Linked DNA regions of Homo sapiens: regions 1, 2 and 3 are each linked to region 4. The links come from fine-mapping of genetic effects on gene expression. A gene starts in region 4. Each other region holds a variant in brackets. All regions are shown on one strand. Distances are between the middles of the regions.

Region 1 (7,802 bases), 76 kb after region 4:
TGACAATGTGTAGAAAAGGAAATCCCATTTTCTGAGGACAAATTTAAGCTGGCTGCAGAAATTTGGGTAAATAATGAGAGGCTGAATATTAATCCCCAAGACAATGGGGAAAATGTTTCCAGGGCATGTCAGAGGGCTTCACAGCAGCCCCTCCTATCACAGGCCTAGAGGACTAGGAGGAAAAAGTGGTTTAATGGGCTGGGACCAGGGTGCCCTTGCTCTGTGCAGCCTAGGGACTAGGTGCCCTGCATCTCACTCACTCCAGCCATGGCTAGAAGGGCCCAAGGTATAACTCAGGCCATTGCTTCAGAGGGTGCAAGCCCCAAGCCTTGGCAGCTTCCACATGGCATTGAGCCTGTGAGTGCATGGAAGTCAAGAATTGAGGTTTGGGAACCTCCACCCAGATTTCAGATGATGAATGGAAACACCTGGATGCCCTGGCAGAAGTTTGCTGCAGGGGTGGGGCCCTCATGGAGAACCTCTGCTAGGGCAGTACAGAAAGGAAATGTGGGGTCACAGCTCCCACACAGAGTCCCTACTGGGGCACTGCCTAGTGGAGCTTTGAGACGAGGGCCACTATCCTTCAGTCCCCAGAATGGTAGCTCCACCAACAGCTTGCACCATGCACCTGGAAAAGCTGCAAACACTCAACACCATCCCATGAAAGCAGCCAGGAGGGAGATATATACCCTGCAAAGCCACAGGGCAGAGCTTCCTAAGACCATGGGAACACACCTCTTGCATCAACATGACCTGGATGTGAGACATGGAGTCAAAGGAAATTATTTTGGAGCTCTAAGATTTGACTGCACCACTGGATTTTTGGGTGGGTGTCTCCCTCTCTCTGTGCAGTCCTGGCTTCTTCCTCTAGATGAATCTTCTCTTCATTGTCTCTCTGCAGGGTGTCTCCACCAGGGAGCTGTGCTTTATACAGCATGGTTCAGGGACCCCCAAAAGCACATGGCTTGGGCTGCCAGGTCTTCCTAGGGTTTATTCTGGAAGTAGCACTACATTATTTCTGCCACCTTCCATTGAAAACAGGTCCCAAGCCCAGCCCAGATTCAAAGAGAGGGGATCACCCAAAGGCTCGGATCCTGAGAGGGGTGGCCATTGGGGACATGAGGCTACTCCTACTCATATCTTCACTTCCATCTTTGTACCCCATTGGAGTCAACACAGAGCAGGGTGAGCGTTGTTCATGAAGGAGGGAGGGGTGAGTGACCCATAACCAATCTAGTATTGTGTGTGTGTCAGTCCCAGCCTCTGCCTCCCAATGTACTGGGTTTCAAAGGCTTGTTTCCAAGTTTGTTGTTTGGAGCTTGGGTCCCATCTCATTGAAGACATAATTGTCCCTGTGGTTGCTTTCCTAGGCTGGCCACACAGATGGTTACTGGGAGAACTGTACTACCATTCCCACATCTGATGTGAGGTGGGAAAAAAAGTTTGTGGGTGGGTCTGGAAGCTGACTGCCTCTTTTCAGCATTGATCGTATGGGAAGATGGTTCTGGGTTTGTCTGTGTAGGAGCACCTGCGGCTCACCTTCTGGAGTGGTGGGCCCCAAGCTCTGTGGCCTCCCCTGCCTCCACAGCCCTGTTCCTTGCTGTGTCATGGGCCTGGTGGCAGCAGGCTTGGGCTGGAAGTGTGCCTCTGCCACTCATTCCCTGGGCAACCTTTGATCCCTGCGTTCTGTGTCTACACAGAGGGGAAAGAACAAGAAAACACACAGTAAGTGCCAGCTCCTGTATGCTTCCACCCTCAGCCTCCTTCTCACCACATCAGGCTCTAGGCTCCTGGGGCAAAGACTTGGGTGCCCTTGGGGTCTCCACTGTGCCAAGTTTCTGTTTGTTGAAATACCTCGAGATTGAGTTTAAAATTTGGCATTACTTTGAACTTTAATTGACCAGTGGAGTCAGTTTGAATGTCCAAGGCTTTTTCTCCAGATGCTCAATGATTTTAGGGCTTTCTTTAAGGCAACCTTGTCCAACTTGCTTTATTTTGTTGTTGTTCTGTTCTGTTTTGTTTTAGGCTTTTAGCAGTATGAAGCCATGGTTTTTAGTTTCTGTCTCTAGTGATAAGTGGAAAAGAGGGACGAGGAAGGGGCTTTACCAGCCCAATCAGAAACAGAAACTAAGAACCCATGACTGTGTTCTCTCCCTTGGACACCCTGGCAGGGAGTGGAAATTATTGAACACTAAGGTAAGCTACAGCTTTTTATATTAAAATCACTTATACATATGCAAAAAAGCAATAACATGTACACTATTATACACACTCCCACAGCAGAGCTTATGTGGAGATATGATGTGTTTTTGTATCTACATTTTGTTACTTTTCTATAAGGAATATGTATTAATCTATTATGTCATTTTATTTTAGATAAATGGAGATCACTATAGCCTTGAGACTAAATTTTACTTGCAGAAGAATGCGGAGAACCTCTTCCAAACAGCTTTAGGAAAAGGGAGAGCTCCTCCCTCCTTCCATTATCCACCAGCCTGTGCACCTGGGAGGAACTTTACCACCTGCAAGGTGACACCTCCCCACCCGTCTACTCTGGAAATTACAATATCTACATTATCAATCCTAAATGATTGTTGTGTGTCTCAGAAGAGATCTTATATACCAAAGTATAAGCTATCTTGGGTAAGCAAAAGAGCAAGAAGTAGATTATCCCCTGCAAAATGGGGAGATGCAGGCCTTCAGAGTAAAGCAAAACTGCCTTCCAGAGAACAAGGGAAGGGTTTGGGTTTCATAGCAAAAAAGGGTTCCACCCAGGTTCCCAGTCGGATCTGTTTATGCAAGTGAAGGATTGAAACTTGCTTAGTTCTGATTGGTGGATTGCAGCTGAGTTTGATTGGTGAATTGCAGGTAAGTTCTGATCGGTTGGTTCAGATGAGTCCTGAAAGTCCCAAAGGGGAACTGCAGTGTGGGTTTTGGGGAAATTCAGAGTACCTCTAATCAGGAAATGGCTACTATTTTAAATCTAGGCCTATTAGCCACTCCAGATCCACCACAAAGGACTCCTCAGGTTCACATTTGTTTACACAGCCTAACCTGAAAAAAACAATCTGGAGTGACAGAAGCTACCTTATTATCTGCCAGCTGACCTACTCCTTGCAGAGAAATCATATTGCACAGATGGCCTCAGAGTCCACCCACCTCTAACATTTGCCAGGTTCACCAGTGAAGTTCAAAAAGAAAGTATGATTATCCCCAATTTAATGAGGAAACCGGTCTGCCCAGAAAACACATCTCATGCCTCCCAGCTCTGTCGGTGTCTCAGCTTGGAAGTAAATACTATAGCAAACTGTTTAACACTATCAAAAATATCCTCCTCTGATAAAAGCTAGTTCAGCTGCTCTTCTGCAGTGAAAAGAGCCCAGGTTCTTTGCCAGGGCCCAAGGGTGCTGAGTCCAGGGGCATTTGCCTGAGACCTGAGCTCTGTGGAATTCAGAGCCCACACCAGGGTGAGCCCAGAATGCGTCCCCTGGGCAGGTTGCCAGGTGGAATCTCTAAGCTCCCACACATGTAGCAGCCAAAAACAGTGTCAGTCCCGGACCCCCAACTCCATGACCAGTTTCCAAGGCTACAGTGATTTATCTCCCATAATAAACCTGAAATACTAGGAATTAGTCCATAGCCAGACTGGTTAAAAGTTGTTTTAAAATAGCTAAAATCAGATTAGAAAAATCTAGTTCTCTTTCCTTGGAAAACATTCCAATCGGATGGAGAGCCCAATAGAGTAATTACAGAAGTCAGAGTACCACGTGGTGCCTTGAATCTTGAGAAAATGAGAAAGTGAGGCAATAGGTCCCAGGCCTCCTTTATTTCTACCTGGGAAGCTACAAAATTGTTTAAAATGTGAGAAATCTCTGAGACCCCATTGGAACAAAAATAACTCTACGTCCCATAAATAATTGAAACCAGATATTTACTTTTCTAGAGCAGGTGGGAGGAAA[T/G]AGATGTAGAGAAGTCAGCAAAAGAAAGAAAAGGTTCTTTTTGGAAAGTGGACAAATAGGAGATGAATGTCCTGAATCATTTTATTGCTGGTAATAATGCCTTGGGTTTATAGGGTGGCTTTCTTCTGCAGATCTAAAGACATTTTTTATACCTACTATTTTGCTTCTGTTCATGGCAACCTGAAAAACAAGACACGGTTGTAAAATAAACATCAGATGTGGAAATCCTGCTGAAGAAAAAGACAAAAAGGCCGGAGAACCCTCACAGAGCTGCATGCCCACAGGAAAAGGAGCACCCTCTCCTCACTCACTCCACAGTGCGCAGAGGGCAGAAGTTGAGGAGGCAAATATCTCAGCTGCAGCTCCTAGTTTCTACAGAGGCTCAAACCCCTCACCAGACCAAGCCGCTTTCTGTTTCCATCAGAGGAAGCCAGAGAGCAGGGGTAACAGGTATAGGGGTACTTTTTATTTCTAAACATCTTTTTTTATTTCTTTTTATTAATAGGCTTTATTTTTTAGAGCAGTTTTAGGTTCACAGCAAAATTGAGAGGAAGGCACAAAGAGTTCTCATATACTCCCCACCCCCTCAACCATATGCACAGCCTCCCCCACTATCAACATCCCACTCCAGAGTGGCCCTTTTGTTACAGGTGATGAACATGCAAACATCACTATTAACCCAAGGCCATAGATGACATTAGGGTTCACTCTTGGCGCTGTATAGTCCATGGGTTTGGACAAATGTACAATGACGTGAATCTACCATTACAGTATCATACAGAGTAGTTTCACTGCCCTTAAAATCCTCAGTGCTCCATCTACTTATCCCTCTCTCCCTTCCCCCATTCCTTAGCAACCACTGCCTTTTTACTGTCTCCCTAGTTTCACATTTTCCAGAATGTCCTATAGTTTGAATCACACAGCATGGAGTCATCATTTTACCTATGGATGCACAATTGTTGCAGTATCATTTAATGAAAAGGCTATTATTTCTCCATCAAGTTGCCTTTGAAACTTGGTCAAAAATTAGATGTTCATATAGTGTGGCTTTATTTGTGGACTTTCTACTACACTCCATTAATTGTTTTGCCTGTATTTTCACCAAAACAACACTATCTTGATTACTGTAGGCTTTTCATAGATCTAGTAATAAGATAATATTCATTCTCCAAATTTGTTTTTATTTTTTTAAGTTGTTTTGACTATTGTAGGCACTTTGAATTTCTGTATGAATTTTGTAAATTCTAGATTTAGTTATCAAATTTTTTTAAAAGCCTACTGGAATTTCTATTTGGATTGCACTGATCCTATAGATCAATTTGTGGAGAACTGACATCTTAACAATATTGAGTCTTCCAACTTATGAACATAGTATATTTTTTCCTCCATTTAGATCTTTACTTGTTATCAACACCATTTTACGGTTTTCAGTACACAGATGTTTTACTCCTTTGAAGCAGACTAATTCCTAGGTATCTTATTTTTATGCTAAAGTAAATGTTATTTAATTTTCAATTTCTAATAGTTTGTTGTGAGTACATAGACATACTATTGATTTCTGTATATTAATCTTCTATACTGGAAACTTGCTAACCTCACCTGTTAGTTGTATTAGCTTTCTTTGTAGATTCCATTTCATTTCTACAAAGATGATCATGTCATATGCAAATAAAAGGTTCTACTTTTTCCTTTCCAATATAAATGCCTTTAATTTCCTTCTTTTGCCTGATTGTACTTGTGAGAACCTCCTCCAGGTTGAATAGAAATGTGTTTTTTCTAATCTTCAGGAGGAAAGCATTTTGTCATTTACCACTGAGTATGATGTCATCTGTGGGTTTTTGGTAGATGCCCTTCTGGTCCTTGTTTGATGAGAGCTTTTATGTCAAGTATATGTTGAATATTATCAAATACATGTTTGTGTCTATTAAGGAGATGATACAAGTTTTTCTTTTTTAGTTTCTTAATAGGATGAATTATAGTGATTAAGATCTTAAAGTTAAGCCAACCTTACACACTTGTGGTAAACCCCACTTGGTCACAATATCTACTGCTTTTGATATACTGTCAGCTAGAATACAAAAATTTTGTTTAGATTTTTTTGCATTTATGTTCATGAGAGATATTAGTCTCCACTTTTTTTGTCTAATAAATTTGTCAGGATCCGGGGTCTGAGTAATGCTGGCCTCAGAAAGTGTTGGAAAGGATATCCTCCTTTTTAATTTTCTGGAAGAATTTTTGTAGACTCAGAACTCATTCTCTCTTTAATGTTTCGTAGAACATACTAGTGAAGCTACCTGGGAATGGAGGTTGTGTGTGTGAGAAGATTTTTAATTACAAATTCAATTTATTTAATTTAGAGTTATTCAGATCATCAATTTCTTCTTCAGTAAGCATTTGTAGTTTGTGGTTTTTCAAAGGCTTTGTACATTTCATTGATGTTGACAAATTAATTCACATAGAACTGTTCATAATATTATCTTATTTTCCTACCATTATCTTTTGATTCTGATGCCACTTTGCTTTTCTGATTTTGGTGATTTATGATTTATTTTCTGATCAATCTTGCTAAATGTCTATCAATTTTATTGATCTTAAAGAAACAGCTTTTGGCTTTATTGATTTTTTCTATTGTCTTTCTGCTTTCTATTTTATTAACCTCCATTCTGACCATTTTTACTTCCTTTCTTATACTTACCTTGTGTTTAAGTTGATCTTTTTTTTTTTTTTTTTTTGTACTGTTAAGGTGGAAGCTGAGGTCTTAACATTTGAGAACTTCATTTTCTAATATCAATGTTTTGTGCTCCAAATTTCCCCCAAATGCTTTAGTGATAATCTAATAAATTTTTATTTGTTATGTTTTAATTTTCGTTCACTTTAAAACAGTGCCTAATTTCCCTTCTAATTTCTTCTTTGACTAATGGCTTATTTAGAAATGTGTTGTTTAGTTTCCATGTTTGAGGGATTTTCTAGAGATTTTTCTGTTACTAATTTTTAATGTAATTTCATTGTGAGTAGAGCACAAACTTTGTATGACTTGGAATATTGTATACTTTTTGAGGCTGGTTTAATGGCACCAAATTTGAGTTATCTTGGTAAATATTATGTGTACAGTTGAAAATAATGTACACTATGTTATTATTGGGTGGAGTGTTCTATAAATATCAACTAAGTCAAATTAGTTAATGGTGTTTAAATACTCTATTCCTTACTGAGTTTTTGTTCACCTGTTTTATCAATTATTGAGAGAGGGTTACTAAATTCTCTGTCTATAACTATACAATTATATATTTTTCCTTGCAGTTATATCAGTTTTTGCTTCAATTGTTTTGTTTTTGTTGATATTTAGGATTGTTATTTCCTCTTGATAAATTAATCTTTTTGTCATGAAATCTCTTTATCTATTTCTGCTTATTTCCTTTGTTTAAAGTCTAATTTGTCTGATATTAATGTAGTAGCTCCAGCTTTATTTGATTAATGTTAACATGTATTTCCTAATTATGTATTTTCTATGGCCAGCATATAGTTGGGTCTTGCTTTTGCAACCAATTAGACAATCTCTGCCTTTTTATTTGAAGTATTTAGACTATTTACTTTCATGTGATTATTAATATGGTTGTTGATATGAATATGATCATCTTGGTATTTATTTTCTGTTTGCCCCTTTGTTCTTTTTTCCCTTTTCTCTTATTTTTTAAACCATCTTTTGGATTAATATATTAATTTTGACTATTATAATTCTTTAACCGTAATTATTTGCTAAATGTTCATTTTATGTCCCTTGTTGGCTTTTGTTTTGTTTTGTTATTCTAGTGGTTGCTATAATTTTTATATACATCTTTTAGG
Region 2 (7,802 bases), 39 kb after region 4:
AGCAGCAGAGTTCAGCTAGAGCAAGGTTCCCCAACCCCTGGGCCACAAACTGGTACTGGTCCATGGCCTGTTAGGAACTGGGTCGTACAGCAGGAGGTGAGCAGTGGGTGAGGGAGCATTACCACCTGAGCTTCACCTCAGCAGCAGCATTAGATTCTCACAGGAGCATGAACCCTATTATGAACTGCACATGTGACAGATCTAGGCTGTGAGCATCCTCTGAGAATGTAATGCCTGATGATCTGAGGGGGAACAGTTTCATCCAGAAACCAAATCCCCCCACCCCACGCACCCTCCGTGGAAAAATTGTCTTCCACAAAACTGGTCCTTGGTGCCAAAAAAGCTGGGGACCACTGAGCTAGAGAACACTCGCTGCTCTAGCCAGGGCTGGCTGCTTTCTCAGGCTGGCAGATGTGGGGTTGAGTCTTTGCAGTCAATAAACCCAGGCTCTTGGGTGGAGATCAAGCTCTTTTCTTTTTTGTCTTCCTGTCCGTCTGGATCAATGCTGAGCACAGAGGGCATTTGCAAATACTATTTTTGAGTGCACTGGCTAATTGGCTCTTGTATGGGTATATTTCTCATTATGTTGGCAAACCACAAGGGGCAGTGAAAACTGAGTAACTGATATGTTTCTCCGTTATAGGTATTTTTTGAAGCTTAGCAGGTGTCAGGGTCTGGGAACACGAAGCTTAATGACAAGAACACTGCTTTTAAGGAGTTTAGAGAGAACAGTGATCATTGCAGTGTGATGTGATGCTGTGGCGTAGAGGTTTGCTCAGGGGGATTCCAGCTCACATTGCTTGGGTAGGTCAGCTGTGGGGGCTGTCGACCACTCCTGGCCTTTACCCCCTTGGCCTCTCCAGTGGCCTCCCTCAAACAGCCCCTGAACGGGCCCAGCCTCTAACCTCAGGGCATCTCTGGGCCCCAGAAGGGCTGGGGAGTCAATGCCCAGGATCAGCTTTTATCAAAGAGACACTGACAGTGAAACCATCTCCCCTGCTCCTTGAGAGGCTAGTACTGAAGATGACCTACCGGGGTCCTCAGCAGGACTGAGTCCTGAGCCCCACATGTCCACAGCACCTCATCAACACACCCTTCCTTGGTTCTCCTCCCTTCCCTGGTTCACTTCCTCTCTCCCCTGGAAGTGCTTCCTAGAATCATCTTCCAAATAAACCACTGCAACAAAACTTTTCTTAGTGTCTGCTTTCGGAAAAACCCAAACTAAGACACAAGACTTCAGCGCCTAGAGCAGGGAAGTGTCGCTTGTGGTGGGCTAGAGCTTCCATAAATGTGGAGACAGGGGGAAGGGTGGCATGTTTGGGAAATCTTTTTAATTGAATTAAGAAAACACCCAGTTTTAAAAAATCATCTAGAGTGGAGTTTTCTATCCTTGGCACTATTGACATTTTGGGCTGGAGAATTCTCTCCTGTGGGGCTGTCCTGGGTGCAGCAGGAGGTTGAGCAGCATCCCTGGCCTGGACCCTTTAGTTGCCAGTAGAGGCATCTCCTCCCAGTTGTGACAAACAAAAACATCTCCAGAGGTTGCCATGTGCCCCCAGAGGGCAAAAGTCACCTCCAGTTGCACTGATATAGAGCTTCTGGAGGAGTTCCAAGGTACATCATCCTTCCCAAACATCCCTGAAGTGTGGGGTACTTGTGTGCGGTAATGGCATATTTCCTTCTTTTCTTGGGCTTAATTGGAGTTGAGTAGGGTGAGCCCTGATCCAATATGACCAGTGTCCTTATGAGAAGAGGAGAGACACAGAGAAAGAAGGCATGTGACAATGCAGGGAGCGATGGGAGTGAGGTGCCTCCAAGCCAAGGGTTGCTGGCAGCACCAGGGGTGGAGGAGAGAGGCATGGAATAAATTCCACTGTGAGCCTCCAGGAGGAACCAACATTGCTGACTCCTTGATTTTGGACTTCTGGCTTCCTGAGCAATGAGAATAGAGTCCTGTTGTTTTAGGCCCCTGGTCATTAGTTACAGCAGCTCCAGATCATGAGCCCACCTGCCTTCCAGCGTCCTCACCTCTGGACTCCTGTCAGCTTCTCAGAGCCTTGTCTTCCTGCATGTGGTTGAGGAAGCTGAATCACCAGAATATGTGGTGTGCTACCCGACAGCCTGAGAGTAATACCACATTCTTTCTTTGCTTGCATTTAATTAGAGTTGGCTTGAGGCACTACTAGCCAAATTTGGCAGGAAGCCATCATCACTAACTTTGAGGGGCTGTGGTCCCTTCCTATGGAGGATGCTTTTACCTCAAGAGCATCTCTTCTGTAGTCCTGAAGATGTGTCTACCAGGCTTTTGTTCTCCATTGGGAAGAGCCCTCCCAGCTCAGCCAGGTTGCAGCTGTTGTGGCTGCTTCCTAGGGGCCACAGGATGTGGCTATCCATGGCTGGCACCTGCAGGAGCTGGAGTCTCCCATGCAGTCAGCTCTCTGCCCTGGTGGAGATGGACCAGGGGAACTCTCCCTTCCCACTCAGAGCGCAGCTCCTCAGATGTCAGCCCTGGGACCCAGCTGCCCTGGCAAGGCCCCTGAGGGTGGTACACTACCCAGGCTTTAATCCCTGTCTCCCAGGGAGCCAGAATGTTGTCTCCAAAAATTCAACTCTATGACCACTTTCACTTTCAAACTCTCTAACACAGAAGGTCCATTGTTCAACTTTCTGGGCAGAGTTTAGTTCTCAGATGAGTTTAGTAGAAGCTCCAAGCACAAGGCCCAGTGTCCATTTTCCCTAAGCACAAAGGCCGATTCCTGCCCCTGGGAGAAAGGAGGGCCAGACCTGGAACTGCCCCACTCTGGGGAAATTGCTCTCATTCCTTCCTAAAGAGTCCACGCAGCAAGGGCAGCATCCTTAATGCAACACAAGCCTGTTTCCTGTTCTGACAGAGGCCAGAAATCCCACGAAGTCAGAATGAGACATCGCTGGGCAGGACTCACATCCCTCATTCCCTCTGATGTGTAGCAGATGACGGACTGTGGGTCCCTAATGTTGTGGTTAATCTGTGGGTGAAGCTGAACACTGAGCGACACAATTTGCTCCCACTGTTCCCGACTCACCAGATGAAAGTGGTTAGTTATGAGTGTGGAACTGGGTGGTGTATCTACCCTCAAGGGCTGCTCTTGTGTGGCCCCCACCACACTGTCCAGGGCACCTCTGTCCTCTGCAGGCAGGTCCCTATCTCCCGATGCCCACTGATCCCACTGACTCAGCACTGTGGGCTTACAGGGCATCCCTTAGAGGGGCCAGGTGAGGTGAGAGCTGCCCTGAGCAGAGTGGCTGGTGCATTGAAGGGATGTGTGCAGCAGCCTGGTGCAGAGTGGAGGGGAACTGTGGGCACCAGACCCACCAGGAGGAGGCTGAATAGGGCTGGGTCACAACTTCAGTCTGCTTGATGTGAATGGGGCGCTGTTAAATGCAGGTTCTCAGGCTCTGGCTCCCAAACTTTGAATTTGGTGGTCTTAGGAGTAG[C/G]TTTTTATTTGTGTTTTAAATTAATATTCCCAGGTGGTGTATGCACAATGCCCTGAGAAGCAAGAGCTTCTTATGTTTTTTGGGGGGACAAAGGAATGGATACTTTATTGTGCAACCTCACCCTGGTGGGAGAGCTGAGGGATTCCTTTGTACTCCATGCCCACTCCATCCTGGTGTGGTGGTGAAGACAGCGGGAAATGAGAAGGAGCTTGCTTGTGCCTTCCTGCTCTTTTCTATGAAAGGCTGGCACTAACAACCCGATCTTTTCTTGGGTGCCCCTCTTTTGGGTTCTGAGTACCATCAAGCAATGCAATGGCCTGTGATGGTTCACCCAATCCCCAATCTATGAGGACCATGGGTGCTTAAAAATTTATCCTGATAGGACAATGGCTCTCAAAGTGTGGCCCCAGGATCAGCAGGGCCAGCATCAGCTAAGAATTGCAAATTCTTGGATCCCACCCTAGATCTGCTGAGTCAGAGTCTCTGGGGTAGGGCATTTTTAAAAGTCCCCCAGGGGATTCAGCTGTATGAGAACCACTGCAATAAAGAATAATACGTTTTGCACCAATACAGACCAGCTGTATTCAGCTCATGTTTGCCATGGGGAAATTCAGCTCATGTTTGCCAACACCAGAATTGGTGGCCTTGTTCCACCACCATTTTGATGCCCATTTTCCAGGGAAACCAGAAGGCATCCCATCTCTCTGTCTCTTTCCAAGCTGGCTTGTCTCCTGCCAGAAACTTTCTCTGACCTCCTTCTCCAAGGCTGGGTGATGAAGGCCTCGTCTCAGCTCCCAGGGCTCCTTCTCTCACTAGCAGACCCCAGAAAGCAAGCCCCATGCATCATAGCACAGGCCAGGAACAAGGTGATGACCCTCCCATGATGGTCTTCATGATGACCATGAAGTTGGCCAAATATCACTGCTGGCAACATTGCTTGACTTCTACCCATAGAAAGGTGCTGGGTATTAGTCAGGGTCCTCTAGAGGAGCAGAACCAATAGGATGCGTGTGTGTGTGTGTGTGTGTGTGTGTGTGTGTGTGTGTGTAGACAGAGATACTGATTTATTTTAAGGAACTGGCTCATGTGATAGTGAAGGCTGACAAGTACAAAATCTGCAGGGCAGGCCAGCAGGTTGGAGACCAGGGAAGAGTGGAAGACTTGATGCTTCAGCTGGAGTCCAAAGGCAAAGGCAGTCTGGGGGCAGAATTCCCTCCTCCTAGGGAGAGGTCGGTTTTCCCCTAAGGCCTTCAACTGACTGCATGAGATCCACCCACATTACAGAAAGGAACCTGCTTCACTCAAAATCTACTGGTTGAAATGTTAATCAACTCTTAAAAATACAGCAGGTGTTTGACCAAACATGTGGGCACCATAGTCTAGCCAAGCCACCACATAAAGTTAACCATCACATCAGTGACACCATGGGAGCAACACAACTGTGCAGCTATCTGGAGAAGTGTTAGGTGGGAGACATTGTTAAACTGCGTTGGATGCATGTATCTGCTCAAGGACATGCACATGTACACACATGTCTGCACATGCATTCACAATCACATGTGCACATGCACAGATACACACACATGCACACACACACAATGCATGGATCACAGCATGAGGCAATGACCACACAACAGTGCCCATGAGGTGAAATCATTAAACTGAGGTCTTGATTTGACCATCCTCCAAACACACATTTTTCTATGTAACACAAAGCAGGTCAAAAGCCATTCTGCATCTGCCCAGAGCCCATCTCCCAGAGGCCAGGTCTGTAACTCACAACCCAAGGACTTTTACTGGTTTCTGTTTGATCCTCCTCTCTAGGAAACTAGCCCTTAATGCATGAGGAATGAAATTCTCACTATCTGCAGCTAATCAAGCCATGTTTGTTATCCCTAGCTAGTATGACTCATTAATTTTCTGCCATGGTGTTTACCTCACAAAAAGTATTCTAAGTAATCCGTGCCTGCCGTGAAGAGTTTAAATGCAGTATTTTGACTTTTAGTGGACAGTGACGTCTTTTTACCGCAATCCATTTCTCTCCATTCTTAAAAACAATGGGGATAAAAATCGAAGTGTTTGAAGAGCTACTCCTTAAATACTCTGACTCACACTGGACGATCTCACTGGTGTGTGCTTCTTGCAGGCAAAATAATAGACGAGTCTTCGTTTTCCTGGGCTTTTAAATTCATGATGTTTTCAATAATTTTAAACTTATGACAGTGAGCACATTTAAGTGAAAGTTTTTGAAACTGTTTTTGTCTTGTTTGCCTTTGTCTGTGATGTGTTTATACAGGACTGTTTCACAACTATGCTATTGTGAAAGACATGAACAATGAAGATGTGTGAACAAGCTCTCATGGCCCAGGGGATTATAGCTGTGCATGAAGTAGTGAGTGGAGGAGGGGGCCAGCCCAACCCTAAGCAGGGGCTGCAGGCAGCCCTGCGGACTTTGCTGGAAAGCCTGAGCCTCTCTGGGAACAGGGCACATCTCTTGAGCAGAGTCAGGTCATGGAGCGGCTCTGGTTGGGGAGGAAGGGGCAGCTCCAGCTGCTAAGCTTGGCTGAGAAGATGCCACTGGCCATTCTAGGGCAAGTATGCCAAATGCTTCTGTGAGCAAATGCCTTTGCTTTTGGTTGCTTTCATCAAAGTTTCAAAGAGATCTGTGACCCTCTTCGTTTGGGTGTTTGGCTGGAGTGTGATGAAGGTGTGACTGCAGGGCCTTGTGGTGGAGGCAGGAGTGTGTAAACAGCCCCACTGGGTGTGGATGATGCATGAAGATTCTCAGTTGCTAGTTGAGTCACCAGGTTGGTGGCTGGAAGCTTCTTCAGAACTGGGCAAAAACAGTAATGAGATTGATTCCCAGCTTTTATTGGCCTAATGAGCTGGCACTAATTTGGACATGCCACTTCACACTCAAGTTTGCATATCTATAAAATTGAAAGGGGGCAAAGTAATCCCTTAATAGTAGGCATTTTAACATGGACACACTCGGGTGCACAGAGTGCCAAAGTGTTGGCCAGGCATGTTTGCAATATGAAAGTTTGAACTAGATTTCTCTTGGGGAATTCATATACACATTATAAAATACATGGTGTATTTATATGAGCACTGGGGAAAGAAGTGACAAGAGATTTGTGGAGTGTAGGTGAAGCTGTTGAAGAAATCCAGTCTGCATTCAGCTCTGTACTTGGCAACGTTTCTGGAAGGACTAGCAGCAAACGCTTCTATTCTGGGAACAGTCTCTCCCACCTTTGCACTTTCCCCATCAGGCGGGTGTGGGCCTTGGTGATTAGCTGAGTCTGAAAATAAACGGCGCCTCTGTCTCCAGGGTCAGATTCCAGATGCTGAACAATAACCTGCCAGCATGGGGGAGACTGAAACAAAAGCCTCTCAGGAAGTGATGCTCCATCTTGGTTGAGGAGTTGGCACGTTTCCAGAAGGGATGTCTCCCGGCTGTCAGGCCATCGGGACTTTCAGCGTTCTGCATGTGGCTCCACTGCAGAACACACACACTCAGAACAGCACCAACATTGTGTCAGCACCCCATTATAACTTCCCCTGTTTTCCTTTCCATAAACTCAAGAATTCTTCTCTGGCAAATTTCATTTTATGGAGATGCTAATATTCTTCATCTAATTCAATTTTCCCGCACCCAAACCTTCACCCATAAGAGACAATATCACAGCCTGAGAGAGGAGGCTGGCTCTGTAGGAATGGCTTTGAGAGCATTCGAATCTTCTCATCATTATTTCTGATGAATCGAGACTGGCAGGCATTAGCCAAAGTCAGAGGAAATCAACTAACACCTCTCTCCCATTACAAAGGAGAAGTAACTTAAGAAGTAACTTAAGAAGTAACTTAAAAAGTAACTTAAAAATGTTGAAAGATGTCATGTGTGGTGGCTCACGTATGTAATCCCAGCACTTTGGGGGGCTGAGGCGGGAGGATCACTTGAGGCAAGGTAAGGCGTAGGCAACATAGTGAGAACCCATCTCTACCAAAAATTTAAAAAAATAGCAGGGCATGGTGGCACGCGCCTGTCGTCCCAGCTACTTGGGAGGCTGAGGGGCCAGAATTGCTTGAGCATAGGAGTTTGATGATGCAGTGGGCCATTATTGTGCCACTGCATTTGGGTGACAGAGTGAGATCCTGTCCCCTCCACCCCAAAATATAACAAAAGTTTTTTAAAAATTTAATGCTGAAAAAGTAGATAGAAGAATCTATTAGCCAAATGGAAGGTGAGTTTTGATAGGAAGAGATGCAGCAAGTGACACCCTGCCCCTCCCCCACACTGTGCGCACAGACACAGACACATGCACACAGGG
Region 3 (7,802 bases), 68 kb after region 4:
CAGGAGTCAGAAGTCTGGGCATGGCTCACCTGAGTCCTCTGCCAAGGAACTTGCAAGGTTGGGGTCCAATCAGGCCATGTCCTTATCTGAAACTTGGGGTTCCCTTCCAAGCTCTCTGGCTGCTGGCAGAATGTGGCTCTTTGTGATAGCAGGATTGAAGCCCAAGGCCTTCTGCATTTCCCAGCCACCCCACATGGCCCTGTCCTTGGTTACAAGATGGCATTTGCTTCCTCAAGGGCCACGACAGTGTCTCCCTGTGTACGCAGCAAGACAAAACCTTGTACGGTATATACACATACAGCAACTTCATCTCGCAAGGGACAGCCCATCACCTTGCCAGATCCCATTGGGAGGGTCACAGGTCCTTCCCACACTCAAGGGGAGGCAATCACATGGGGGAACACACCAGTGGGAGACCCCAGGAGCCATCCGGAATTCTGCCTAGCCCCCATCTCTCTCTCTCCCCTTACAGTTGTTCATTCTGCAGAGAATTTTTTTTCTTGAGTTGAGCAACTTATTTTTAAAGCTGATTTTCTGCCAGAAACTTCTTAAAGGAGCCAATTTCTCTTTTTCTCTCTTGTTCCTCTCTCTTTCCTCATTAAGCTCTCCCTCTCAACATTTTAAGCCCTTCAGAATAAGGTACACTAGTTTTAAACAGGTATGGCACAATCTCTTTATAACAGCTCATTGAGAATTTATAGAATTTTCAGCATTTTAGAGCAGAGGTAGCCTGCTGAGAGACCTGTGTGTTTAAAATTCTAATAGTCTTGGGGGAAATAAGACTCCCTCAAAACATTTCCCATCGTATGCTCCTGTAAAAAGTTCCCCCACAACCTCTTAAAGACTTCTTGCAGTTAATTTGGAAAAGTTATCTCATGGATTATTTCGTGTGTATGAAGACCTGAAATGATGGTGTGAGTTTCAGGGGACTCACAGACAGTCTTCATTCTGTACCATTCCTCACCTCAACTGCTGACACGCAGCTTGCAGACCCACCCCACAGCTCCTGTCCAGGCTCAGTGGCCATACTCTCTACACACCCCTGTCCCCCAGGAGACAGGACTGAGGCAGACACACTCTGAAGCAATGGTTTTCATCGTCTCTGCCTGCTTGATGGTTTTCATTTTATTTATTTATTTTTTTTTTTGAGAATGAGCTTAGGCAGTCCTCAAATGAGGGGCCCACAGATGCTATGGATTTGACCTGCATAGATAGTGTTTGGTAGGGGTAAGAACAAAAGAAAACGCCCCTCAGAAACTCTGAAATCCAGTGCCACCTGTGTGACAGATAGCAGACCCAGGGCCAGTGAAACTGCCCTCTGTGGAATGCAAGCATGCGGGTGACTTCTCTTGTTCCTGGACACCTGGCCCATGACCACACTGTTCACAGCAGGGCTCTTTCCTCCTCTGCCCAGGAAAGATGCTGGGAAAGGCTGTGGGGTTGATTTACAATGTTTCCAGGAGTACTGCTGTCACCAGGAAGCCATGGCCTTTGGCAGCGTGGCCCTGCAGGGTGTGAGGGGCATCTGGGCAGCAGGCGGGTTGGTGCTGCCAGGGAGTGTCCCCTGCACAGTCCACTTGCCTCCAGCCAAGGGGAGAGCTGATCTATTGGGAGCAAGAGAAACAGAGTTGGGGGGCACGTGAGGAAGTAGTCCATACGTCGGGACATGAGTGTTGGTCAGTCATAGGGAGGTTCTGGAAGATTTGGGGTTTGTTAATGATGATCCAGTCTTCCCAGGAAGGGTATGAGATGGGGATTGAGGCCATTAGTCAGATTAATGTTTCCCAAGAGAAGAACAGGCTTGTTAGTTTTGGGACACAGATGGAGGAAGGGCTGGGGGATATTTGTGGTCTGCTGAGAATGAATCGCTTGCCCAAATGACTCTGAACTGCCGAATCATCTCCCTGAAAGGATTCTCCAGTGAGAGTAACCCCCTTGCTGTTCCAGTCAAATGCCTTTGAAAATATTTCTAAAGTGCATTATTCCAAAGGCTACTTAAAGTTATGTATCTTAAGGGTTTCAAATAATTCTATTGACCAAGATGCTATTGATCTTGACAAGAATTGGCTTAAATCTGAAATAAAAATAAAAGCTGGCTTGTTGAAGACCTGAATGAGGCTCTCTCTCCTGCATGAAGGCAGGCAGTGGGTGCCACTGGCCAGGAAGGGGTGGAGAGTATGCTACCAGTGCCATCTACCAGAGCCCAGGGGCGGAGGCCCGCTTTTGGGGGTTTATGAGATCACTGGGCTTGGGACCCTGGTCGGCCCCTGATGTGGAGTCCACCTGGCGTTTACTGCCTCTGTGTCCTTCGAGTTTGAGTTCACCCATGAATGAAATGACATGTATGAACATTCTTCATAAACTAAAATACTTGTGGGCTCTCATACTCAAAAAACCTGTGGAGCATTCCCCACGCTGACCATCAGTCATGGAAGGAGTGTGCAGCCTATCAGAGACACAAGCTCCTGCGCCACACGTTATGACCTTTCCCCCAGGAGACAGCCCGAATGAGTCCTTTCCATTTGCCCAATAATGGAGTGAAGGGCCTGTGAGGCAGCCTGACCCTCCAGGCTGGTGATGGCAGCTACTCAGCTGTGGAGCTGGTTGCAACTGCTCATTCTTCTACAGCAGGAGTCCCCAACCCCCAGCTACAGACCAGGATTGTCTGGGGCCTGTTAGGAAGCAGGTCACACAGCAAGAGGTGAGCATTGGGCAAGCAAGCATTACCACCTGAGCTTTGCCTCCTGTCAGATCAGCAGCAGCAAAAGATTTTCATAGGAGCATGAACCCTATTGTGAACTGTGCATGCGAGGGATCTAGGTTGTGTGCTCCTTATGAGAATCTAACTATTGCCTGATGATCCAAGGTGGAACAGTTCCATCCTAAAATCATCCCCACTACTCCCACCGGCTGTGGAAAAATTGTCTTCCATGAAACCGGTCCCTGCTGCCAAAAAAGTTGGGGACCACTGTCCTACAGTACTTTCTCTGAATTTCAGATTCATCCTTTCTAGTTCTTGTTTCTGACCAAAAAAGGCCCAGACACCCCGCTAAGTAACCATCATCAGCTTTTAACATGTGTTTCCAGGGTATCAGCATATGATACCCTGGAAATAACTCTTAGGGATTTGTGCAAGACTAGCATGGGAAGCTCCTCGGAGGTCATGTGTGTGACCCCCCAGAGGTTGCGTGTGTGGCTCCCAGCCCCAAGTCCCCCCGACCCCCACCCCAGAGGCCGTGTGTGTGCCTGCCTGGAGCACAGGCTCTGGGTTCATTCCTCTGCAGCTCCAGCTGGCCCGTCCTGGGCAAGTAGATTAACCACTCTTGGCTGTCTAAACAGAGAACATGTGCTGTGCTTATTCCTGGTCTTGTTGAAAGCCATTTTTTTCACAATCAGTCAAGTGGCTTCTGACTATGACTTGGCTTCCCGTGTAGCATAGCCACGGAAACCCATGTGAGTGGCCCAGTGAGCTCCAGGTAGGTGCTTCAGTCTTAGGAGCATTGAGGAAGGGGGACCTTTTCAGAGACTGAGTCTGGACCCTGGCAAGGGTTGACCCAACTGTCTGAAGGCAGCATAGACACGGCTGGCCCTTGGTATAGCCATGTCATTTCCTGTCTGATTGCCACATCCACTGGTGACACTGTGCACTCAGACGATGGCCTCATCGGCCACCCGCAGGCACAGTGAAGCCACAGTGCCGGAGGCTGGCCTTCAATATAGCCATGTCATTTCCTGTCTGATTGCCACACGCATTGGTGGCACCATGCACTCAAGATGATGGCTTCGTCGGCCACCCACAGGCACAGTGAAGCCACAGAGCCAGAGTCGCTGCAGCCCCCGCTGCACCATTGACAAGCCAGGACTCACACGGTCAACTCCTCGGGCCTAGAAAACAGCAGAAAGGGAAAGACATATGGAGCACATCCTGGCCTTGGTCTGTGATCAATGGGGACGTCCAGCCGCAGAGATGTAGGGCTGCAGTGAGGTTCCTGAGGGTGAAGAAGTCTGTTCTCTGCAGACAGCTGAGGAGAGAAAAGCAGAAAGTGGTGAAGTATCTGAAGGAGAAGAGGAGAGGAGCATGCCTGCTTCGAGCTCTGTGTGAGCAGATGAGGAACACACTTAAACACATGCCTGGGAACACCTGGAGGAAAAATGGCTTCATCAACCAGAGTCTTGCAGGTGAAGTGTTCTCTCTCATCCTGTGTGCTATGAAGCTGGGGTGGCACCAATGAGCCTGAAAGCTACAGTGCAGAAAAGGCAAGGGTTCAGAACTCAGGCTGCTGTGGTCCCCAAGATTAGCAACTGTGGTCAGCAGTGGGTGATGCCATGTGTACGACTATGTCTTAAAACCACCTTCAGACCAGAGATCCCACACTTCCTAATTTCCTAAAATTCTGTCACTGCATGGACCACATGTAGACAGGTATATAAGCATTTATAATCCAACGAGGGAGAGCACACTAAAAGACTGAAAAAAAAGAGAGAGAGAGAGAAAGAGAAAAGACCCATCCTGCTCTGAATTTTAGTGGGTGTTTTGTTGGAAGAAAGTGAAAATAAGAATAGACAGAAAAGGCAAAGGTAAGAAACCTAGAAAATAAAAAAAAA[T/AT]CTGAAAATCAGAGAAAGTTAAAAACATAAAGCAAAACCACACAGGAGAAAGAAGAAGAAAAGGGGAATAACCAAAGCAAATGAGAATATCTGAGAGACAAGAAAATCCTTTAGGCACAGCTAAAAATAGAAAAAGTAGCTCTTTTTATACATCTTCATTTAGGAGATTATCTGAACACTGAGATTTGAGGCATCTGACTTTGAGGTATCATGTGTACATAAAAGTAATCAAATGAGCCATTTAAGCATGTTTCCTTGAAATAAAATGTTAGTTTTCAGTTCTTCCTTTGAGTTGACGAAAGATATGCATTCTCATAGAGCCCCACTTTATTATTTTAGTATAAGATTGGAAAAAGCATATTATATGTTTAGTAAATTGGATTCAAATGAGACAATGTATCAGAAAATGGAATTTTTAATTTGGTTTTAAAATGTTCCTATTTAAGAGATGGTCAAACAGGTGTGAGACAGAAGAAAAGAACATCAAAGCGGGTGGGGCCAACGAACCCTCACGTCTCTGCAGATGGAAACAAGGCCGTGGTTATTGCGGTCTCACGTGCTGTGCATCTTCAGGGCTCTCGCTTGTGAACTTTCTGGCCTATAACATTGCAGCTAAACCTCAAAGATCAAGGCTCAGGCACTGTGTTTGCCTGGAGGTCGTTTACTGCTTCCACCCAGTCAGCTCTTGTGGTTCATTAGTTTTGCTGCAGCAGCGGAGAGGGAAGGAGTTTGACTGTGCAAATGGTGCCCGCAGAGCCTCCAGGCACACACAGGGCAGATCCTTTCTAGAATTTTTTATAGCTTGCATCATTCAATAGCTCCAGGCTGTCCCCAAGCCCCATCTTTCGGGTTTGATGGGTTGAATTGTGTCCTTTCAGAATTCATAGGCTGAAGTCCTAACCTGTATCCACACCCTTCTTCCTTTCACTTGTGTGTGTATCATTTTCTGGATATTTGTAAATGTTTAGGCTCCTAGGCCCTCCCCATGCCCACTAATCCCTAGCTGGCCCCTCAAACAGGTGGCAGATGCTGTTACAATGCCCATTGTGCTTAGTACATCGGTGGGCCTGGATGATCTGAGGCCATCAGTCCGTGGTCACTTTGGGGGTTCAATGTTAACTTTGGTGCTGAAAACACAGTTTGCAGACCTTCAGCACAGGGATCGCCCGGGAGCCTTTTAGATATGCAGAATCTTAGGTCCCACCCCAGACCCACTGAATAAGACTCTGCATTTTAACAAGATGCTGGAGTATTTCACATGCACTGTCCTTAGACCATGTGAGGGACTAAGTTCCTAAGCAGCCAGTCTCCTATTATGCCACCCAAAGGAGAACTCTTTGCTCTAATAAAGCAACTGAATTCCACAGAATCTCTAGAGTCTTGAGGCTATTTTCTTCCTATTAAAAACTATTATCAAATTTTGATCCTTACATTATCACCCTCCTCTGCATCATCATTTTCTGATTCATACAAATAAACTTTGCAGTGGAGTAGACCCTACAGTTGGGAAGTTGGCTCCAGCACATCTGCTAAGAATTTGCTGGGAATGTATACCTTCCCAATAACATTCCTCTTTTGCTGCTGATGAAAGTTCTACACCTTTCAGATGTGTGTGTGTGTGTGTGTGTGTGTGTGTGTGTGTGTAGAAGGTTAATTGATGCTTTTTAAAAATGTGGCCCATTTGAAGCTTTGAAAAGACATGCTCCTTTTCCCACTAAAGTGATGGCCAACCTATCTCTGCCATCTCAGAGACTGGCTCCCTGTGACACTTGCAGAATTATTCCACTGTGTCCCTCCTTCTGCCAGACACAACCAGCCACCTTTCCCTCTTGAATCTTTGGACTTACCTTCCAGTGGCTGAAAGGGCCAAGCTTACGTGTGTTCCTAGGAACAGTCTGCCTACAAGTTATCACCTCCATACCCCAAGAATGAGCATCTGCTCCTTAAGCTCCCCCATCCAAGACACTGGAAATTTCTTCAATGCAGGGAAAAACATTTTACTTCATTATTAGGAGATGGACTTGAAATCAAGGTAGACCTGTGGTACACTGACAGGCCCCACCAGGTGGAGGTAATGAGATGCTGGAAAGCAGGGCTGGGTCTTTGGAAACAGGAATACCAGGATATGGGGCCTCCAGCAATGCATGAGGAGGTGAAGCTAAGGGTGTCAAGTTCAGCCTCACCAATTTCTTAACTGTACTGGAGCATTTTGGACTGTTCTAACATGGGATTTCTCTTTGTCAGTTAGGAGAGGAGTGGCCCTCTTCTCAGCAATGCCTTCCTGTCAGGGTGGTCTATTCATGAGTCACAGCCTTAAGTGAGGTCAGGTCACTTGCTGGCCCTTCATCCTCCACATAGGACTTTGGCAGACCCTTATCCCTTCCCAGCCCAGGTTTCTTGATCAATGGTACACATGATCACACCTGCCATGGGGTTTATAACTGGTAGAACAACTCTGATGAAAATGTCTGGACTTTTCAAAACACACCAGCTTTATTCCAGGATGGCCCCAGAATTTCCCAGAGATCCAAACAGAATCCTGGAAATCTGTTAAGCTTTGGATGCCCAGGACTGCACAGGTTTCTTAGTAGCATGAGAACAAGGAGAGCATGGTTCATGAGGTGAAAAAAATGCAAGAAATAAGGCTTAGAAATAAAAATAATGCAAGCAACCATTTCTGAAAGACTAGATGTACTCTGGAGATGGCCTGCTCTGTACAAACACATTCATAAAGTATTGCAGAACTTGGCAGTGGGTGCCATCTATGAAGCTCCTGAGTGTCAGTCTTTTCCTCTATATAATGGGGATATTAACATCACTTGGATTTAATGATTTGGTGCCACCACCAACACTGATATGATTTGCTGTGTCCCCACCCAAATCTCATCTAGAATTTTAGCTTCCACAATTCCCACATGTTGTGGGAGGGACCCAGTAAGAGGTAACTGAATCATGGGGGTAAGTTTTTCCTGTGTTGTTCTTGTGATAGTGAATAAGTTTCACAAGATTTGATGGTTTTATAAGGGGAGATATCTCTGCACAAGCTCTCTCTCTTTGCTTGCTGCCATCCATGAAAGACATGACTTGCTCCTCCTTGCCATCCACCATGATTGTGAGTCCTCCCCAGCCACAAGGAACTGTGGGTCCATTAAACCTCTTTCTTTTGTAAATTGCCCAGTCTCAGGTATGTCTTTATC
Region 4 (7,802 bases):
CTAATGAGTATTTTCCCTTGCTCTAGATTTCTTGGGTGACCTCGCTCTGCTTTTGGAGACAGTCCATTGCAAAATGCATGCTTCACACACCCAGCTGCACAGGCTTGGCCCATTAATGCAGCTCCCCTGAGAAATAACAACTGTTACAGACAAACCAGGTGAGGGTTTTGTATCTTTTCTCCCTTCTCTTCTTCAAAGCATGCAAGTCAGTGCACTTCCCTGGTTAGACTTACTGCTTCCCGGTGGCTTTTCCCCAAGTCCTTCTCCATCACAAATAAGGCTGGGACATTATGAGCTATCTGGGCATAGTCCAGGGAACCCCAGATATGGAGGCTGTGCCCCAGGAAACTCAGGCCCCGGCCCCGAGCATCTGCCTCCGTGAACACCATCCTGAGCTTCCAGACTTGTGTGTGGGAAGGCAAGTGCGTCTGAGCCAGGAGGTGTTTGACCGCTTTGCCTGTCCATGAGTCTTTTTAAACCTTCTCCATTCTGCTGCTGCTTCATGACAGCATAGGATAAATGATTCTCAAGATTTCCACAGGGATGAATCCACAGGGATGTGGAAATAGGCTCTGTGAGGTGGCTAAAGGCACATTCAAATAAGAGGCATCCTGCCCACGAAGGCTACCGGAGATCCTTCCTATCCCTTCCCAAAGCGGCAGTCTCACCTGGTGACTCGGCATGCGTGCCACCTTGCACCATGGACATAGCACACATGGCCTCATGGCAGCATCTGCCTTCTGAATGTACACAGGAGGAGACCGAGGCTGGGGGAGGGGGGGTGTCACTTGTCCTTAGTCACAGAGCTGGGAAGGGGCTGGGCCGGTGTCCGTGCCATCTGATTCCAGGATGTCACATTAGGGATGAGCTCTTTGGGAGGCTGCCACCTTGCCACTGGTTCTTTGCCTAGGTAGTGACAAGAGATTCTCTGGCATGTTTTAGAGACAAACTGCCTCATGCTCCCATGCCAGCAGAATGTTAGCATGTCATTCTGGGGGCACTGAAATATCTGGAAAATTTTGAAGCCAGGAAAATGGAGCGGCATCTGCAAGGCCGAAGAGCACCATCCACTGCTTGAGGAGCGGACCGTCACCTCGCTGTGTGAGCTGACCCCAGTCCGGCCTGTGAGCAGTGAAGATCCACTCACTGGGCACCAATCTGCACTGGACAATCTCGTCACTGATTTAACCCAACTGGCCTATTGTCTCTTACAGACACAGCTTCAATGCCTCAAAAATAGGATTCAAAAAAGGGAAGGAGACTTTATGCCCAGTAGCTATAACAGTAACATCAACTGAAACATGTTATTAACTGAAACTAGATACGATTCCACTCAGTCTATTCTTTTTCTTTTTTCTCAAACATTATACATTTCCAAAAGCTTAAGGAAAATCTTAAGGCAATTAATTTGGCAGAAAACATATGGCAGAGGAATAATAGGAAATGCCTCCAAAACTGATAAGAAAGGAATTACAAAGCCAAATATGAAGAAACAGAAAGTTTCATAGAACCCACAGCACAGCACCCTGGTTCCAGCTAAGGTAAACAGACTGCATAAGGCTGGCGGCCTGGCTCTGGTAACACTTGGGAAACAGTACAAAGTCCTGGCAGTTAAAGGGTTCTACAGCAGGGCAACCTCAGATTTTTCAAGATTGTGGCATGCTCAAATTCTCCTTTTTTTGGTAATAAAAATATACCTACAGTATATAATAAAAATATACATACAGCACAGGCATTGAGGAAGATGAAAGAGATACCATGAAATCAAGTTAATGTCATAATTTCCAGAAAGAGGAAACCAGTTCCTGAATTTTGAGAAATAAGATCCTTCGGCCACTATGTGAAGTTTCTTCTATAGGAAACTGTAGTCTCTACCCTTTGTATATGGTAGAAAATCAGAGACTCATGCATTTGAATAAAAATCACAATGATAAAGGGAGAAATGGCACTTTCAAAGATGAAAACTGGTTGAGAAATCATTCTCTCTAAATCTTAGGGGGAGGCTCTTAAGGGCTAGCTTCAGTTTGTATCTCTGGTGTTAGGTGATGGAAGTGATTTCAGAGGCCCAAAGTGAGTGCTTACTGGTTTGCTAATGAAAAAAGCCTGACGTGCGGTTCTTCTTCTATGGCAACAAAGTTATTCAACCTAGCATTAAGGTCTGCATCCATGAAATAATACTTTACAGATATGAACACTTCCACAACTCCTCAAGCGCACACACACACACACACACACATGCCCCGCACCATCACCACCTCCTCAACCAACACCAGCCCTGGGCATGGCCAGCTATCCTTGTTAGTCATGTATCTGCAGAGCATAATCCTTCCCTTGTACTTTCTAGGAATTATATTTTTCTTAACTATGCCTGCAAGATTTTCATCTATGAATAAAAAACATTGAAAAGATAAATTATGAATATGTGGTTATATACAAAGTCTGTGACTTCTAATGTCCAGATTTTAGAATGATGCCTAATTCTGGAGGTCTCAGAGGTCCAAGTGGGAGTGGGTACCATGAATGGGGGGGCCTCCATTTAAAAGTAACCTTCTAAAGAGCTCTCTGTTCCTGTAGCTCCCCTTTCCTTATTGGAAGGGTCAAAACGAAGTGTGTTCCCTTAAAAATCCAACAAGAAGTTCCTCTCTTATATCCAAATATAAAAACACCACAAAGAAATATACCATTGGGAGTGTCCAAAGCCAGAAAGTCAGAGGAAGAGAGAGAGAGAGAGAGAGAGAGAGACTGACTATTGGGAGACTCAAAAAGCCCAAAGCCCCTTCTCTAGCTGTTATCTCAGTTACGAACACAACGTACTGATTTTCCGTGGGAACCTCATTATTGCACTGTGGGGACTTCGTCTTCCAGCACCGATTCTGACGGCCCTAATTGCCTTGTTTGAGAAATGTTAGGAAAAAACTAATTTTCCGGCGAATATTGTTTAAAAGAATGATTTTCCCAGGCTAACGACCACAACCCTCTCCCACGTCCAGCATCCCCAGGCCCTGGCACTGTGGAAGCCTAACTTGTTAATTGTCCAAGGAAAACGACTGATGGAACTTCTCCACGAACAGCCTCTCCACTTTCATCCAGGTATTCAGCTCCAGCCCGTTGTAAACGCTCCGGGTGCGGTGGAAAAGGCCTCCTCCCTGTTCCTGCAGCGGCTCTGGGGGAGGGGTGCTGATGTGGAGCGCTCCGGCCGCCGTGGCGCGCCCAAGTCCCCGTCGCGCCCGGGATCGGTGGGGATTTTGTTGGAAAGGTGGGTCCTTCGGCCCCCAGCCCCCCACCCTGGTTCCGCGCCCCGCCCGGGCCCGCCTCTCACCTCCGTCGGCTGAGGGCGCTGGGGCCACCGGCATCCTAGCGGGTGGCGCGCGGCGGTGCCGGGGCGCCCGGTCCTGCGCTCGAATGCCAGATGGGCTGGGAGGCCCGGCAGTCTCAGCGCTCGCGACGTCGTTCCCGGGCCTGGGGTCCTGCTCGGTCGCGTCCTGCAGCCGCCTTCTGGTCCCTGAGTCCCTGTTGCCCGTCCCCGGAACCGGCTTCCTCGGCCTCTGCCCGAGCGAGTCAGAGACTAAACTTTTCCAGCGGCCCGCCGGGGCGGGACCCGCGCTCCGCCCCTCCCCTCGCCGCCCCCGACTCCCGCCCCTCTCCCCGCCCCCCTCTCCCCGTCCCCCGCCCGCGAACCCGGCACTCCTCCAGCTCCCCACCTCCCGCTCAAGCCGCCTGGTCTCCGTGCGCCCCGCCCGCCCCTAGCCTGGACCCCTTCTCCCCGACCCTACCAATCCCCTAGGGTCCGGCTCGCCCTTCGGCCCCTGTTCCCAGGCCGGCCTCCAGACCTTGTCCTCATCGGGCGAGCTCCAGGTGCAGAAACCGGGCGCCCAGAGACCCAGCGGGAACAGGCTTGGAACCAGGTCCGAGGTCTGGGCTTGGGCGGGCGCCTGTCGCCCTGACAGCGAGGGTTTGTTTGGGCCGATTCTTAATAGGAGGATTAATACTATCATTATCGTTGTCCAGATCCTGACCATTTCTTTTGTAACTGGCCGAGCACCGGCTTGGGCTTGCAGGTGGGCGCCTGGCGCCGGACAGCGTTTTTGTTTGGGCTTCTTCCTTTTCCGCGCGGGTCCCCTCCGGCGCCTGCCTGGTCCCTCTCCGCGCTCTACCCCCAGGCACGCAGAGACTTGGGCTCCAGGCGGGGGCAGCACTCTCCCCCAGCCTCTGCTGGTGCACCAGAGCCCACTCCGGCACAGAGCAGCGCCCCTCCTAGACCGGCAGCCAGCAGATCTCAGCCGACCCCCATGCGACCCCCTTCCTCACGCGGATTTGCCCCTTTTGTGTGGCAAAAATAATAATAATAATAATAAATCCATATGAAGGCTTCAAACAGAATTCCGAGAGAAGGAACTGCCAAATTTTCAATCAATGCCAAAGGCCATGATTGAGCGAACACAGAAACAACTGTAGAAGCTTGGGGAGAAAGGAGAAAATTAAAGAAAAAGGAGGAGGAGGAAAAGGAGAGAGGAGAGAAGCGGGAGGAAGAAGACGAAAAAGCAAGGAGAGGCCTGTTATCCGACCGTGCATTCCTGGGCCGGCAGGATTGGGCCGCAGGGGCCGCTGCAGAGAGTTGAGTTTGTGCAAAGGCCGCTCGTTACTTTCTGTCTTTTGCCCTCTTGCCTCCAGAGGATCAGCCCAGCGCATCCTTCTCTTGGAGCAGGGTGCATACGCTTATTTGGGGTGCAGTTTGAGCGGTGAAGGGCACCAAGAGTGGAAGTCGGCGGCACTCCTGTTCCCTGCAGAGAAACGCAAGCCCTCAGCAATTGAGCTGAAGGAGGCAAGTGACTCTGCCTGCTGAGGCTGCCAGCCCTAGAGGCTCTGGCCCCCGGGAGCTGGGGTACTTCCCAGCGTTTTCGCCTAAGCCACTTCGCCTGTGCTACTGTGGAGTCTTCCGGCACTGTAGCCTTCCAACTTGTTCAAAGTGCCTGGTGCACGGCTCTGAGAAGCCACTTCTGTCCCAAGTTTCATGTGGGCCTGAATGTGCTTCCCTTTGTTGGACTCCTACAGCATCAAGTCAAGAAAAGAAGGAAACATGCTCCTTTGGCATTGGTCACAACCAGGATAACAATACAGCATACTGTGGCCACTGTGTCTATATTACCAAAGTGGTCAGTAGGTTCATCACACCTCTGTTCAATTAGTTGCTTCCCGTGATGAAAAATTTACTGCTAGGATACTGGCTGAGGGTTGTTTTAAGGGGCACCCAAGTCTCCGTTCCTAGAGAAAGTCAGTTACCCTGATATAACAGAGCAACCTTGAGGCGTGGTGATGCCTCCAAAACTAGTCTGCGGAATCGGAGCCCAGAAGCCCTGAGGAGTAATGTGGCTCTCATGCTTTATGGCAGGTTTCCCTAAGAGAGACCCAGGATCTGACCCATGGCATCACTGAAATTCCTCTTTCAGTGAGGCTCCGTTTGCCTAAAGATCCCTGTCCTCAGTGGGTCTCCCCACACACGGGCCTCTCACTCACCCACTGCCCCACCCCCATCTGCTGCCCTCTTCCTGGGCCTTAAAGCTCAGACACTAGACTCTGACAAGGAGCCCTCCATGCCCCGGTAGAGACCATCTTCTCTCACCACTCCTTTTGAGAGAAACAGCCCTCCCTACAATTCTGTTGAATAAGTCTCCTCCTCTGCATCCTGTTTCACAAGTGAAAGCAGTTTAACAGAAGAATGCCAGCTCATAAACGTAGAAATGCGAGAATGAGGAAATCCCCATTCTGTAACCCTTAATGAAATAATTAAATCAGGCAGTGTGCACTAGTGGGTGTCAAACCCTTAGGTGAAAGTGTGCAGGCGAACGGGTGCTAATTGGAAAAAAAAAAGAAAAAGGTTTTCCATTTTCCATTTTTTTATGGAGACATCTGGCTGTACCTTACAGGAAGATCAAACTCAGTGTCACTAATACTGGCTCAACCTGGCATTATGTGATGCAAAAGAAACACACAACATCATTGTTGCTGTGTGCTTGCCAAAGATGCTTCAATTGAATCAATTGCAAAGCCTCTAGACTTTACTGCAAGTTTACAGGAAATGGAAGAGTTTGAGCCATGAGTTAAATGACACCATGGGAAAAACTGGACTACCAGAGTGTGGGCATTCTGCAGTCCTGAGCTCTTCCAAAAAAAATCAATGTCAAGAAAAAGGGGTGAAGGATTCTTCTGGTATAAGAACAGCTGAAAAGAAGAAGTATAACAATAAGTACAAATCCGGATTGACTCCCAGCTGGACAAATCAGCACACACACACGCACACAAAAACATTTTGGAGGAAATTACAAATTGGAGGGGATATTGACTGATAGTATAGAATTATTGTTAATGTTTTTAGGTGTGATAATGGCATAATGTTTGTTTAGGAGAATGGCTTTAATTTTAGGAGGTGCTGCTGAAGTATTAAAGGGTAAAATGTCTTCATGTCTAAAACTTATTTTAAATTGTTCAGCACAGTACGTGCACATAAGCTGATATGACAAAAGGTTGGTGATTATTGGTTCTACGTGGTGGATTTAGGGAAGGGGTTGTACAATCTGTTCTCCTTCTTTGTATCTTTGAACTTTTTCCATAATAAAAAGTTGGAGAAAAATAAAATGGCAGGTACTAAACAACTAAAAAATTTCTCTACCTTTGCGCTTAGACTTTAAATCAAATCTAGGCTTATGGGAATAAAATTGAAAGATACTATGAGTTATATCTGTATACTTTTGAAAATCATGTGGCCCCAAACTTAAATATGATTTGAATAAATGTATTATATATCACAATTATGTAATATAACCTTACATGCTTTTTTAATTAAAAAAATGAAATATATTCACTTTCCCAACAATTTAGTGTCCACAGCCTGGTGAGCAGGTACAGTGTGGTTAAAGGACATGCAGTTTTAAGATTCAAACTCAAAGTGAGCCCTTTCTCCAGCAGAACGAGTGCACCGCAGGAGAGCAGAATTGTCTCAGAAGAGCTGAGTAAATGCACCTCCTTTCTCGGTCCCCTCTGCCCTCCCAGCATCTGCTTCCAGGATCCCAGGGTGCCTCCCCAAGTTTCTGGGTCTGAGTTAATCTGCACTATCTCTACTCTTAGCTCTGTTTAGCGTAAAGGCTGCAACAGACAGTCATTATCTGAGTAAATGTGCATGCATGATATTTTTTTGTTTGTCTGAGGCCTCTTCTCAGGAAAATGTGTGTTGGTCACAGTTTGCACACATGAGCTTGACACTTCAAGTCCTGAAGGTTTCCAGAGGAGGACTGCCCCCTGCAAGGTGGGGTCTAACAGATAGTTATGATGGTTAATTGTATGTGTGAACTTGACTGGGGCATGGGGTGCCCAGATATGTGGTCAAACATTATTCTGAATGTGTCTGTGAGGGGGTTTCTGGATGAGATTGACAAGTGAGTCAGTAGACTGAGGAGAGCAGATGGCCCTTCCTAGTGTGGGTGAGCCTCACCCAATTAGTTGAGGGCCTGAGTAGACTGTTATTGAAGACAAAAAGCCAACACTCTCCCTAGTTAGAGAGAAGTCTCTAACTAGGAGAATCCTCTTAGGACTGGAACTGGGACCTTGGACCTATAGACATTGGATGTGTCAGCTTCCATAATTGCATGGGCCAATTCCTTATAATAAAGCCTTTGTGTATGCTATAGGTATACCTCCTGTGGATTCCGTTTCTCTGGAGAGCCCTGACTGATGCAGTGGCCCCAGGGAAAGGGCAGAACCTCACAGATATGGCCACTGTGGCAGAAGGGAGCCCGGAGCTACAGTGG

Which allele goes with the higher level. Alleles are on the strand shown, and positions count from the first base shown. SD is a standard deviation of normalised expression in the study named. Not every link is listed here.
For the expression in monocytes of the gene that starts at base 3,547 in region 4, allele T in region 3 goes with a lower level than allele AT (moderate effect, 0.61 SD a copy in Quach 2016).

The links. PIP is the estimated chance that this variant, and not a neighbour inherited with it, causes the effect.
Region 1: its variant is fine-mapped to the expression of S1PR3 in blood mononuclear cells (TOPMed, PIP 0.91).
Region 2: its variant is fine-mapped to the expression of S1PR3 in whole blood (INTERVAL, PIP 0.98).
Region 3: its variant is fine-mapped to the expression of S1PR3 in monocytes (Quach 2016, PIP 0.95).

The regions. Positions count from the first base shown.
Region 1 is chr9:88,911,416-88,919,217 of GRCh38, reverse strand. All of the region lies in intron 3 of LOC124902205 (a long non-coding RNA gene), which reads right to left. Among named protein-coding and RNA genes, the nearest start is that of S1PR3, 76 kb to the left of the region's middle. The variant T/G (reference allele first, on the strand shown) is at 3,960.
Region 2 is chr9:88,948,593-88,956,394 of GRCh38, reverse strand. No RefSeq gene overlaps it. Among named protein-coding and RNA genes, the nearest start is that of S1PR3, 39 kb to the left of the region's middle. The variant C/G (reference allele first, on the strand shown) is at 3,475.
Region 3 is chr9:88,919,713-88,927,514 of GRCh38, reverse strand. It overlaps LOC124902205 (a long non-coding RNA gene), which reads right to left. Exons shown (of 4, transcript XR_007061654.1): 4 at 1-4,022. Among named protein-coding and RNA genes, the nearest start is that of S1PR3, 68 kb to the left of the region's middle. The variant T/AT (reference allele first, on the strand shown) is at 4,606.
Region 4 is chr9:88,987,213-88,995,014 of GRCh38, reverse strand. It overlaps S1PR3 (sphingosine-1-phosphate receptor 3), which reads right to left and starts at 3,547. Exons shown (of 2, transcript NM_005226.4): 1 at 3,320-3,547. RefSeq lists a silencer at 3,707-4,001.